3 separate regions of the Homo sapiens genome follow, and regions 2 and 3 are each linked to region 1. Evidence: fine-mapped expression QTL. A gene starts in region 1. Each other region holds a variant in brackets. All regions are shown on one strand. Distances are between the middles of the regions.

Region 1 (4,242 bases):
TTCTGACTGGTGATGGAGCTTCATAATAAATTATTATTGTTAACCTCAGTCCAAAAAAGAGTGCTAGACAATTCTGATCATCCCCAGAAATCATTGAGTATCACAGAATAAACTTATGTAACTGATTTCTGACTGCAAAGAATCCTTGTGCCTACTTATGATTCCCAAGCCTCCCTCCTCTAACTAAAAAATAAGCAATTTTCATCTATACTCCTTGGAAATATAGAAACCTATATGTACAGACATGGTGAAGAGAATGGACAGACTAATTTTGAGCTATATAACTTGCTAGCTTAGTGACTTAAAACTAATGACTTCACCTTGATAAGCCTTAGTTTTCACATCTCTAAAATGGGACCATTAATTGTACCTACCTCTTAGGGTTAAATAAGATAATACAGGCCAGGTGCGGTGGCTCATGCCTGTAATCCCAGCACTTTGGGAGGCTGAGGCAGGCAGATCATGAGGTCAGGAGTTCGAGACCAGCCTGACCAACATGGTGAAACTCCATCTCTACTAAAAATACAAAAATTAGCCAGGCGTGGTGGCGGGTGCCTGTAATCCCAGCTACTCAGGAGGCTGAGGTGGGACAATCGCTTGAACCTGGTAGGCGGAGGTTGCAGTGAGCCGAGATCGTGCCACTGCACTCCAGCCTGGGTGACAGAATGAGACTCTGTCTCAAAAAACAAACAAACAACAACAACAACAAAAAGATATATATTATGTACTTAACCTAGTCCTGGCATTTATTAGACACACAGTAAATGTTATTGCTGCTGTTTCTATCTAGGCCCTATCCAAATCATTTGTTAATTATCACATTTTTATTATCTGTAATTTCTGATGGTCAAAATAAAACAAATAAAAGTCTTTTCCTCCCCCTTCTCCCATTTGCCCTTCCATTCAAGCATGATAATGTAAGCAGCTACCTGACCTGTGAGGAAAGATCCTAGAGGCTTAGAGAGAGAAGCTTTGGCCCAGATAAGACTCCCCCACCCCAAGTTATACCTTAGCAAAAATAGCCTAGGAGGTTTGCAGAGTGGGGTTCCCGCAGAAAGGCCCAGAGTGAAATGAATAACTGCTTCTTACCTCCTAACCTCTCATGCCCTCCAGCCCATTCTCCTTTCTTTAAAGGAGATCCAAAGAGGACTCATCCCCCACGGAACTGGCTTACTATGCCTTCAATGCACTTAGCCTAGCTGTACCAGCCTCGTTGTAATGCATGACTTTTGGTTTTGTTTGTTTGTTGCTACTGTTGTTTGGAGCTGGAAATGGTCCTGAAGATTCCCTGTAAAGAAGACTGCAAAGAGTGAACACTCCCCTAGGCGAATGTCCACTGGTAATAACACTTTGCTAAAGACCAGTAACTCCCCCCTTATTTCTGACACCCACCTCCTTTATAAACCAGGCCAAGAGAAATGGTCAGGGCTTCAACTAGGGCACTGCGGCTCTCACTCCCTCGAGGGCTACTGTTCACCATTCCGGGATCCTGCCAGGCAGCAAAACAACTGGACAAACTTCCCAGAGCTGCAACTCACAGAGTCTTTCCCTAACAGTTCCCATCTTGGACTATATATTAGAATCACCTGGGGAGAGGTTTTTTAAAATATTTGATTTGTATACATCTATGTAGGATTTTTTTAAGTACAGAACCCAGGCATCTGTACTTTTAGAGTCCCCCCGGCCACCCATTCTAATGTGCAGCCAGATTTGAGAATTCCTCTAAAGCATAGATATTCCCAAAAGTCCCAGCTGGAGAACTGCGATATCGTCTCTCTTGCTAACAATTTAATTATTTTACTGAGGCTTTAATTCATTTCCGGGGCACCTATAGTTAACAAAATGAGTCGTAAATCTTTTAGAGTGCCCAGGTCTAGCCATCCATGAAATTGTATTCAGGTACCCAAAAGCAAATGGAAGGGAATGAATGCAGCTCATTCAGATTCTGGGGCCTCCTCACCTGGGACACAGAACCTCCGCTGCCTAAGCTGCGGCTGGAGCTGGAGCCCGACCTGGAGCTGGAGCTGAAGCTGGAGCTGGAGTCAACACCTGGGAAAGAGCTGAAGCCGGGGCTGGGAATTGGAGGTCCCACATCCCCCAAATCCCCTGCAGCTTGGCCAAGGAAGAACAGAAGGGCTAGGAGAAATGAGAGGCCGGGCCTCATCTTGTCCTCTTAGCTGGAGCCGCTGGCTCTGCAGAGAGCCCAGGGGCTTCTTATAGTGCCCAGTGGTGATTTCCCCATGGCCAGCATGTAGGAAAAGAGGGAGTGGCCAGGGAACGTGTGAACTGCCCCAGGAGGTTCAGGACACCCAGGAATCTGAGTCATGGCCCACACCTTGTCAGTGAGGCCCACTCTGTGAGCTGCCCTTGGATCCAGATATCCCCTGCCAAACATTAACTCAAATGTGCTTTGTAAAGCCCAATATTTGGTTTCCCACTTGGTACTTCCTTGAAAGAGATGAGACCAAAGTAGTCTTTGTGGATGACACAGAGTTTGGAGGCTCCATGGAGGAAAAGCAACCCTCAGTCCTTTGCCTCACAGCACTTCTAGTGCTCTCCCCCATTTTACTGAATACTACTTTTCACAGACAGTTAGGGAACTTGCCTTAGGGACTGTGGCTCTCCTCCAGGAGCGACTGAGCTTCCCTCTTCAGTTCCTATTGCCCAAGTTGTCGTTGACCTGTTCCTTACAGTGACTGTTTCTAGACAAAGTTGTCTAACAACCCCACTCTGAAGGAAAGACCAGCAACGTTTTGTTCCCTGGCCAACCAGGTAGGACTCTGCCCTATCAAGTACTCACCACTGTATGCTTCATATAGGGAAGAGAAAACACCCAAATAAACAAAGGGATCCCGATGACCCAGTGCCCGCTCTCCCAGGCCAGGGCACTGCCTCAAACCCAGTCAAGGAGGACCCCAGGAGCAGTTTCTCTCTCCAGAAAACTTTGACCTCTATTGCCCCTGAGCTTCTTGTGAGCCAGCCAGGCATTCAAGATCTCAAGCTTATTCTTCATAAAACTGAGAAATAAGATGCATTTTCTCTTGCTCAGCAGCTCTGACCCTGGGCTCCAGGATCCATTTGCCCTGCTCAACATTTCACACACCTTTGTGACCTCTGCCTTCTTCCCTGGAGAAAGAAAAAGGTGTTAGTCTCGGTATTAAGACCCAGCTCTGGGCCGGGGATGCTGGCTCGCACCTGTAATCCCAGCACTTTGGGAGGCCAAGGTGGGAGGATGGCTTGAGCTCAAGAGTTGGAGACCATCCTGGGCAATGTGGTGAGACCCTGTCTCTACAAAAAATGAAAAAAATAGCCAAGTGTGGCGGTATGCACCTGTGGTCCCAGCTACTTGGGAAGCTGAGGTGGGAGGATCACCTGAGCCTGGGAGGTTGCGGCTGTAGTGAGCCATGTTCACACCACTGCACTGCAGCATGGGTGACAGAGTAAGGCTGTCTCAAAAGAACAAAAACAAACAAAAAAGCTGTGTCACAATGAGTCGGTGGCCTTGAGCATGTCACTTAGCCCCTCTAGGGTTGTAACAATTCCTAAATTGTTTGAATTAAATGAAATATTGTATGGGAAGTTGCTTATGACTTTTGACGTGCCATAAAAATGTCAGCTTTTTCATTGTTTGTTTAATTTCCTAAAGACTAGATCAATATGTAAGATTGCTGGGTTCAAAACAAGGAGAGAAGGTTCATGCCCCACTCCACCCCACCCCAGAAGCTCCACACAAACTCTCAGAATAAGCACAGTGCTAATGTGAGAAACAGGGTCTTAAACCCCTGGTACACTATTCAGAAACTGGGGTGGTGGGGAGGGGGAAGGGGAGACAGGAAAACCACAAATGGATGGATAGAGAGTGAAGAAGAACAGATAGGGAGAAATGTGGGCTGTAAAGTTCATTGTTCTCTGTGGGAAGCAGTTCAGCCTTGGCCTCTTTGGTCAAATGTTCTAACCACTTAGATCCCCAGTCCAAGGCAGGGAATGCATACAGAATGTGTGAGAATGAAAACTGGGAGACTGAATCCATTATTCTAAGATTGAATGCAATGAATATGGACATAAGGAGAAGAATGTGTCTCTACCTCCCAGCACAATTCCCCTCTTCCTCCCGATTCCCACCAAAACAAATGGCAAATCTGTTCTCATTTGCTAGTAGCCTCTGCATGTGGCTGTAATGAGCCTTCCTTGTACCTTTTTTCAAGGAGCATGTTGGTGCCCTGTCAGAAAGAAAATCTCATT
Region 2 (4,242 bases), 56 kb after region 1:
ATCTTCACTCTGACAGACATCCCTGACAAGAGCGCTCTGAGATTGAGCCTTTGGTCCCCACCACTTCCAGTTTGAGCTCAATCTCCAGAGCAAATGTCTGTTTCCCCACCATTAGAGAAAGCTATGAGACTCACTACAACACCAGCAGCCAGCCTTGGCCATCCTTGTCCCCAAGCAAGGCAGCTGGAAGACTCTGAGGCAGCTCTGTGTACCTGGGGAACAGGGTGGCAAAATCACCAGAGCACCCCACCGCCTCGCTCCAAGCTCCTGGGTCTGTGGCAGCCCAGGAGAGAGCACTCGTGCTACAGGTACCCATGTGTGCCACTATCCAGGGCCCTGGAACCAGGGCATCCCTCTGTAGGACTTTTAGGAGCCCTTCCTACTGATGAGGCTAAAGGACCATGACTCTGACACAGTCTTGCAACCCAGTTTAAAGGTCTCCTCCCCTGTGAATCTTTCCATGACCAGCCCACCATCACCAATCTTAATAGCAGAGTGGCTGCCCCTGCTCTTTGTCCTCCTGGTGTTCATTCAGGTTCTCATTGTAATCACACTATTTGTTTAGAGGTCTCTGGGAGGACTGAAGAGTGACCTCTGAAAAGCCTGATCCCAAGACACATTCACACACTCCCCACCATCAGAAAGCTCAACAAGTTGGACTCCACACACTGTCTCAAGCTTCACCTTTGGTGACCTTCCCCCTGCCTGGGGCCCTGCCCTTCTCATATCACCATCATTTTATCTCAACCTCGTCTATATAAAATAATAGTAGAGAGAATAAAAGAGGGATGGGGACAGGGGAAGATTCTTTTACCCTTAAGATTGCCCTGTAATGAAAGTCCAGACCCAGGAATCCATTGGGATAGTCTTGCACATGAGACATGCAATATGACTTCTATGGCTCCAGTTTCCTGCTACAGAAAGGAGAATGAGCTCATCTTAATTTGTCGATCAACAAACACTGCTTGAAGCTTATTATGGACCAGCACCGTGTGGGGCACAGGAAGGAGGCAAGGAGGAGAGAAGAAATACAAGACATGGTCTGCATTCACATTAGATTCTGGTAGAGATTGTAGGTACCATAGGAGACTAGGGGAGGGAGAGAACACATAGATGGGAAAGTCTTCATGAAGCAGATGAGACTTAATAAGTCTTGACAAATGAATAAAATTGAGGTAAACGGGTGCTGATAGGAGAGAGAAGGGTGTTCCAAGTTGGTGGAACAGCATTCACAGATTCACAGGCTTCACAGGTTTGCCTTCATTCTCACCCTGTTTTGGTGCATTTTTTTCTAGAGCAAAGAGGGGAGTCTAGGTCTCCCCTTTCTCTCTTCCTCAAATTCCATTGGAAAATGATCAAAACAGGAATCCCAGAAAACTGCAGAGTCATCCTGGGGGGTAGATAATTATAGACCACAATGCTGATCTATAATATGGAGGGATGAATGTTGGATATTTATACATGTTAGATGGCTAAGCCTGGCACACATGGGGCAGTTGGAGCACTTCTGGGGAAGCATCTTGATTTTGCTCCAGACAGAGGCAGGAGCAGCCCTGTGTGTGACTGGAGGGTGACATTCATTTCCTTGTCCAATACAACCAGGTGGCAAGGTCCCAGCACATTTGCTGCCCATCGAGGAGGATATTTGCAGGCACGTACTTTTATTTTCTTTCTTAGTAGGTTTGAGGAGATCCGTGAAAGTTGAGAATCCTCCTAAAAGCCAGAGCCTCTAGTCTTCCGGGAAGTCTTGCACTCACACCAATTCAGCAAGGGTCCCCAGAGTGGCTGAGGATTCTGAACTTTCTGTTTCATGTTGGAGAAGAATACAAAGGAATCCAAGTGAGATTCTTTCCTCCAGTAAAAATGAGCACCTGGAAATGAATTCTCTCACACAAACTGTTTCTCCTGGTTGAACATTATCAGCCTCTTGACCTTGGCTGGAACTGAGTACCTTCACCATCGACTCATGAAATACAATTATCTGCTCCCTGGTTTTCTGATAGTAAACCAGGTGAAAAATGCAACTGTTGGCCGGGCGCAGTGGCTCATGCCTGTAATCCTAGCACTTTGAGAGACCGATGAGGGCCGATCACGAGGTCAGGAGATCGAGACCATCCTGGCCAACATGGTGAAACCTCATCTGTACAAAAAACACAAAAATTAGCTGGGTGTGGTGGCATATGCCTGTAGTCCCAGCTACTAGGGAGGCTGAGGCACGAGAATCGCTTGAAGCCAGGAGGTGGAGGTTGCAGTAAGCCGAGATTGTGCCTCCAGCCTGGTGACAGAGTGAGACTCTGTCTCAAAAAAAAAAGAAAAAAGAAAAAAAGAAAATGCAACTGTTGAGTTCACTATTGAGAAACCTTGATGCCAGAAAACAGGGGAGCCAGCAGCAGGCAGCTCATCAGACTCCAAACCTATTTTCCCAGTGGCTTGGGAGGGAA[C/T]TGAGAATTTTGCACTTTGGGGTGAACATTGGGTGATTAAACACTTAAATAATCATCATTGCCAATGCTGAAAAAATAAATGTGTGGCTTTCATGTACAATTTCCTAAAAATTTTTTGAGCTGCCATGTGGGGGTGGGCTAGGGTGCCCAAGTCAAGAGTCTAGAAAAGATGGTGCTGTCTTTCTCGCATCCAAGTAATATCAAGATCCATTCATTATCTCCCTTCCTTGGTTTATGGGTTTGTAATTCCCACCAACAAGGCTGGGAATATTGGACCCCATTCTGTCATGAGCCAGAAAGAAAGAAATACTCTCCTGGGAAGCCAAGTGCTCACTTGTGTGAAGTAAATTACCTCTTCTGCAGTGCAAAATTGGTGGGATCCTACAATTTGGGCCCAGGAAAACACTCCCTTGGGAGCAATCTGCTCAGCCACATGTGATAAATTCAGTCTATTTTTAAACTATTCTTTGGCATATCTGAGTATAAGCACAGGTGAAGATAACTGGCCAAAACAAGTCAATCAAGTTAACTTTTCCCTCTGTTTTGTCTGTTTCTTTCTAAACGCTCTATTTTCCCTAACACACACACCACACACATACACACACCCACACCACCTCTTGTCTTTGTTCCTAAGTCTCTCCTCCTTCCTCCCTTAAGCTTTCCCTCCTCTCCCTTTACAATTCTCCCTAGACCCTTCCTTACCCATCTTTCCTCTTCACTTTTCACATTACCACTCCTCTTCCCTGCATCTCTCTTTACTCCCACTCACCTCCTCTAAAAATGAGTCATGGTAAACAGAAAGCTCTGGCTTTTCGGCACAAATAAATAAGACCAAAAAAAAAATCATCAGGAAAAAAAAAAAAACAGGATATCTTCTTAATGCACAGTTTAAACCTTCCAAAGGATTAATAAAAATTTGGCATACATATGGAGTGTGAAGCTTGCATCTCTGCATTATAAATCTGACATCAACTCACAGATATAATGATTTTGGCTCTGTGCCTTTCTAAAAGGAGACAAAATGTTTGCAGTCATTATTGGCATTACTGTCTAACAAGAGAAAGGAAGACTCTAATTATGACTAGACAAATCATGAACAAGGTACATTTCATTGCAATCCTGGGAAAACAATGTATTGGGGAAAATTAATGAGGGCAAGGGGTAGATAAAAGCGCAATGTCTAATTTGCAGAATGTCCTCAGTGGCTCTTCCAAACCAGCCACCCTGGATTACAGGCCTCCTGGCTGTGTTAATGTTCCCCAAACTTTTCCAATCCAAGTGTCCCTCTGTGCCACCTAAGAGCGTCCTTGGTCACTCCATAGAGAAGCACCTAAAAAGAACAGTGAGCAAATTTAAAAACACCAAAAATATTCCCAGGAAAGTTCATGGTTTACAGGAATCTGGAAGGAATCCTTTGCACTTTGGGGTGAACATTGGGTGATTAAACACTTAAATAATCATCATTGCCAATGCTGAAAAAATAAATGTGTGGCTTTCATGTACAATTTCCTAAAAATTTTTTGAGCTGCCATGTGGGGGTGGGCTAGGGTGCCAAAAGAGTGGCCATGCCCTCATTTCCTGGTTTTATAAATTCCATTTTTCATGTAGCAGATTTTCTTAAAATAGGCTTGCATGGTTGTCTCCAAGGCCACACTGACATAGGTGGCCGAAGCAGGGAGATCGCTTGAGCCCAGGAATTCAAGACCAACCAGGGCAACATAGCGAGACCTTGTGTCTTAAAAAAAAAAAAAAATTAATTAGCTGGGTATGGTGTCGTACACCCATGATCCCAGCTACTAGT
Region 3 (4,242 bases), 120 kb after region 1:
ACGCCCCGCCCCCGTCCCTTCCCTCACCTTCAGCGCTTTGTGTTGCAGCACACACACAACTTCTCCCCATCCCCAAGATTAAGGGAGCATCCAGGAAATTGAAATTCAAGCCCCTAATTGGAAACCTGGCAGGTTTACAGTTGTGACTGGAGTTCTTCACACCAGGTGTACTGAGTTGAAAGGAACAATTATGCAGCGGGTCCAGAGAGGAGCCCTCATTTATCTTGCAAATCGATCACTACCCATTATTTTGCTCACCTCCATTCTCCCATCCCTGCTCCGACCCCTTAGACCCAGACAGCAGTAGTGCCCCTGGCAGGAGCCAGCTGTGTCCCTCAGCTTCACTTGACCTCAGGGAAGCAGTGGAACTACATTCTCCAAAATGTTCCCTGCGCCGGTGTCTGAAGTACCCCCCGGAAATGATGAGGAAATGTTTCCTTCATCCATTTTTAATTGCTGCAGATTATAATTACATTCTTTGGGAAATAAATACTTAACCACCTTCCTTTAGATTTTTTTTCAGGCCCAGGGAGGACTGTGATGTAAAGCTTTCAGTTAATAGCTTAGTTTATTCTGGTGTCATTTCTTTTATTTCCTTTCAGCTTGTTATTTATGGTTTAAATTTTTTGCACCCTGGTGCTTGGCCTGCTTTCCTCAGGAGGATAATTAAGAAAAAGAATTTAGATGTTCAGGCATTTTTTACATTGGGCTGCAGGCAGTAGAAGTGTTCAGGGGAAGAGAGGGAAATGTGAGAGAAAGGAGCAAACACCACTGCAGCCACCACCAAAACCCCACAATAAAATCCATTACTTCCCTAAAATGCATTAAGGTGTTATTCTCGTCATTTGGGAGGGCACAACCCATTATCCTAACACTCAATGGATTCCCCTAGACAAATAGCTAAGTGACAGGACTCTTGCATGTGAATAAATTACCATAGAACTCCTCAGTGACCAAACAGTCCTATAATTGCAATGGGATCGACATTCTCCAAAGTGTGTCTGCCCCACAGCCAACCCGATCTTGCTGCATGTCTATCGGCCTGTAAGACAAATGAGATCAGAACAGAAGCCAAAATAAAACTGAAAGACTACTGCTCCTGTTACACAAAGCAGTGAGTGTTTAATTAGACAGGGGCCATGAATTGCAGCCTTCAAAATAGAGGGGAAAAAAAAAACAAACTTTCTCCATGAGTGACTCTTCCTACCCTTGAAGACAATCATAATGAAACTGACAAATACACCTTGGAGGCCAGCTTCACGAATCAAATCGATTTATTTAATAATTTAGGAATCACTTCCAGCCATCTCTCCCATTAAAATCTGAAGGGCCATTGTATTCTCTATTTCCTCGGTTCCTTTCCTTTCTCTTAGTTATACCTCACTGCCTTTAATAAATAAGTAATACAGAGAGAAGAAAACACTTATCTGGAGTACCTCGACTTCGCCTTCACCCTGCAGGGCTCTCTGATTCTTTTCTACCTGGAAATAAATGGAGTCAGGAGCAATCTTTTCTCCCTCAAAGGCTGGGGCGGCAGGGTTAGGCCCCCTAAGTGTGGTCGGTCATAGTAGCCCCGGAGCCCAGGGCACTGCTCAAGCCAGGAGAAGAGCTGCAGAATAAATAACGTGTTAAGACAAGCTCATAGAGGCAAGGGCTCATCCCAAAGGCTGAGTGAGCGTCCACAGGCTACTCTCCAGCTAGCAAATGGCAGGAAACTACTGCAGCTAGTAGGAAAATTCCAAAAGCATCAAAGTAAACTGTAATCATTTGTAGTTTATTGCTCAAAAGTGAGGGCTGCTGAACCCAATCGCAGTTATATTTCCTCATGATGCTTTGAAGAAAATGGGAAAGAGATTGCTATTATACAGTAGGTCTCAGAAAGCAAACTTGCTGATGGAGCAGGAGC[G/A]TAGACGACTCAGCTCGGCCCCTCCCTGCTCTCCGGCTCTGGGCAATGCATTCCTCCTTCTCGCCTTGAGGCCACAGGAGATGTGGGGGTCCCACAGAGCTGCTGATCACCTGCAGCGGGGTGAGATCTTGCTCCCTGCAGAGCCACCCTAATGATAACACAGGAGCCATACTGGTCATGGACAATACTGACTTCATCCACCACCCTAAGCCTCCAGGGTTGAGCTGGAGGCACAATTAACATTCATTTCCCAGCTCCTGTCTGAGCTCCCTTCCCTTGGCCAGCCATTTCTACTATTCACAGGTCCTTCTCCAGCCTTTAAAGAGTTACTCCCCAGTGGAAAGCTGCCCCTCTGCCTTTCTCCAATCCTGGTCTGTAGTCTAATTCCTTTTGGCCCTTATAGGCATGAACCCTCGCTGCCAGGAATTTCCCCCCAGCACTGGAGGACATGCATGTCTTCTCAGTGATCATCTGATCATGTACTGTCTTTTTCTGTGCCTGTCTCCACTTGCCAGACTGAAAGCTCCTTAAGGGCAGAAACAAGCCTTCTTGGTTTTGTATTCCCATACCTAACATGGTGCACAGTATGTGCGTAAGAGACATATGTTAACTAAACGTTGGGGGAAGCTGAGTTGGCTCACTGCTGACAGATATAGAGCACTTGCCACTGGTTTATGGCATAAATTGTGCTTCCTGGGTTTTTCAGGTGGGAAAAAGAGAAAGAAGAGGGAATCACAAATGTCTGTCTCTCCTGGAAACCAGAATCCAGAGTCTTCACCCCACAGCTGCTGGGAAGGTAATTTATCCCTGCCAGGAAAACATGGGCACCAAGCCACGTAGCAACTTCTCTCCCTCCACAAATTAATCATGATTCCGGTGTTAATTCCATAAATAATTCATGAAGTCAAATATAAAGTATCACAACACTCACATCAGCTATACTGTGCAGCTTCATACGCAGGAGAAATTTAAACAAACCTGGAAGCTTCTCTGGTTTTCAGGAAGTTCCGATATGGCTAAATGCACATTAAATTTAGCCAAATGCCCTTTGAAAGTAAATATTCATTGAACACCCTGTCTGTGCTAGGTACGATGCTGGGTGAAACTGAATAAAGGACAGTCTTTGCAGTAAAGGACACAGTCTCTCCCCTGCAGTCAAGAAGAGGAAGCGAGAAAACATCACAGAATGTTAAGCGCTGAACAGATAACACAGTGAGGTTGTATATATAGCACAGTGGTTAAGTCTCTGTGCTGTGCAAACAAACCTGGATTCTAATCCTAATTCTTAGCTGTGTACCCTTGAGCCAGTTAATCTCTCTAAGCCTCAATGTCCTCTCCTGTCTCTTCATCTGCTAAGTGGTATGATGACAATAATAGTATCTATCTCACAGGGTGGGCCTACAGAAAAAAGGCAATTAATGTTGGAGATTAACATGATTAGCATTGTAACATTAACATTACAATATATAACACACTCTTGGCGAGTCAGAAAAGGTTTCTTGGAGAAGGTTTCAAAGGCTGCCTGGGGGAGAATGAGGAATGTGGGGGAAAAAAACAGTTCCATATTTTGTGGGGCCTAGTGCAATATCAAAGTGCAGGTCCCCTTTTTTTCTGTTTTAAGACTTCCAAGAGAGTGACAGCAGAGCATTGAAGCAAGTCAAAGTCCTTCTAAGAAAGGACACTGGGCACCTGCATAGGTCGTAGCCCCAGATGCTGTCCCTGAGAGAAGGCATGCTCCCTACAGTCCCAAACATGGGATTGGTACTTGCAGGACAGATGGTTTTGACTTCCTAGAGAACAAATTCTAAGCCTCAGCTATCCTCCAAATGATGCTTCCGACTGAACCGCGATGTCAGAATTGACTTTCAAATTCAAGGTAGCTATATAATCTAGTGGCTAATATCAGGTTGTGGGCACATATGTAAATGATGCAAATGCACCTCCCATTCCTCTGATACTCTCTCTGTCATGCACAAGGGAATGCATGAGGCCACTTCCCCAGATCCCTTACTGGGTCTTAGATTCCTTGGGAGAAAAAAATTTTCAATGGGAAGTACAGAGTCTGAGAATCAGGAGTCCTGGGTACCAGCTCCAGGCCCTCCACTCAGGGCAAGTCACCTTGTGTCTTCGAACACCAGTGTCCTCACCTGTGAAATGCAGAGACAGAATCACTGATCTCTAAAGTTCTTTCTGGATAGACTATTCCATATTTCTGTGGAATAGCAGCAGGAGAAAGAAATAAAAGCCTGCAAAGCCAGAGTAAAGTAATAATAATTTTAAAACAAGCTCTATGCCTGCTGATTTTTTAATATACCATTTCTGGTCTGGAAAAAAAA

Direction of the effects. Alleles are on the strand shown, and positions count from the first base shown. SD is a standard deviation of normalised expression in the study named. Not every link is listed here.
As copies of G replace A in region 3, the expression in caudate of the gene that starts at base 2,188 in region 1 goes down (moderate effect, 0.50 SD a copy in GTEx).

Evidence for each region. PIP is the estimated chance that this variant, and not a neighbour inherited with it, causes the effect. A credible set is the group of variants that fine-mapping cannot tell apart.
Region 2: its variant is the best candidate, but not a certain one, in a credible set for the expression of OLFM4 in whole blood (TOPMed, PIP 0.67).
Region 3: its variant is the best candidate, but not a certain one, in a credible set for the expression of OLFM4 in caudate (GTEx, PIP 0.72).

Annotation. Positions count from the first base shown.
Region 1 is chr13:53,026,759-53,031,000 of GRCh38, reverse strand. It overlaps OLFM4 (olfactomedin 4), which reads right to left and starts at 2,188. Exons shown (of 5, transcript NM_006418.5): 1 at 1,961-2,188. The coding sequence starts at 2,164.
Region 2 is chr13:52,970,899-52,975,140 of GRCh38, reverse strand. No RefSeq gene overlaps it. Among named protein-coding and RNA genes, the nearest start is that of OLFM4, 56 kb to the left of the region's middle. The variant C/T (reference allele first, on the strand shown) is at 2,442.
Region 3 is chr13:52,902,362-52,906,603 of GRCh38, reverse strand. No RefSeq gene overlaps it. Among named protein-coding and RNA genes, the nearest start is that of PCDH8, 56 kb to the right of the region's middle. RefSeq lists an enhancer at 1-533. The variant G/A (reference allele first, on the strand shown) is at 1,907.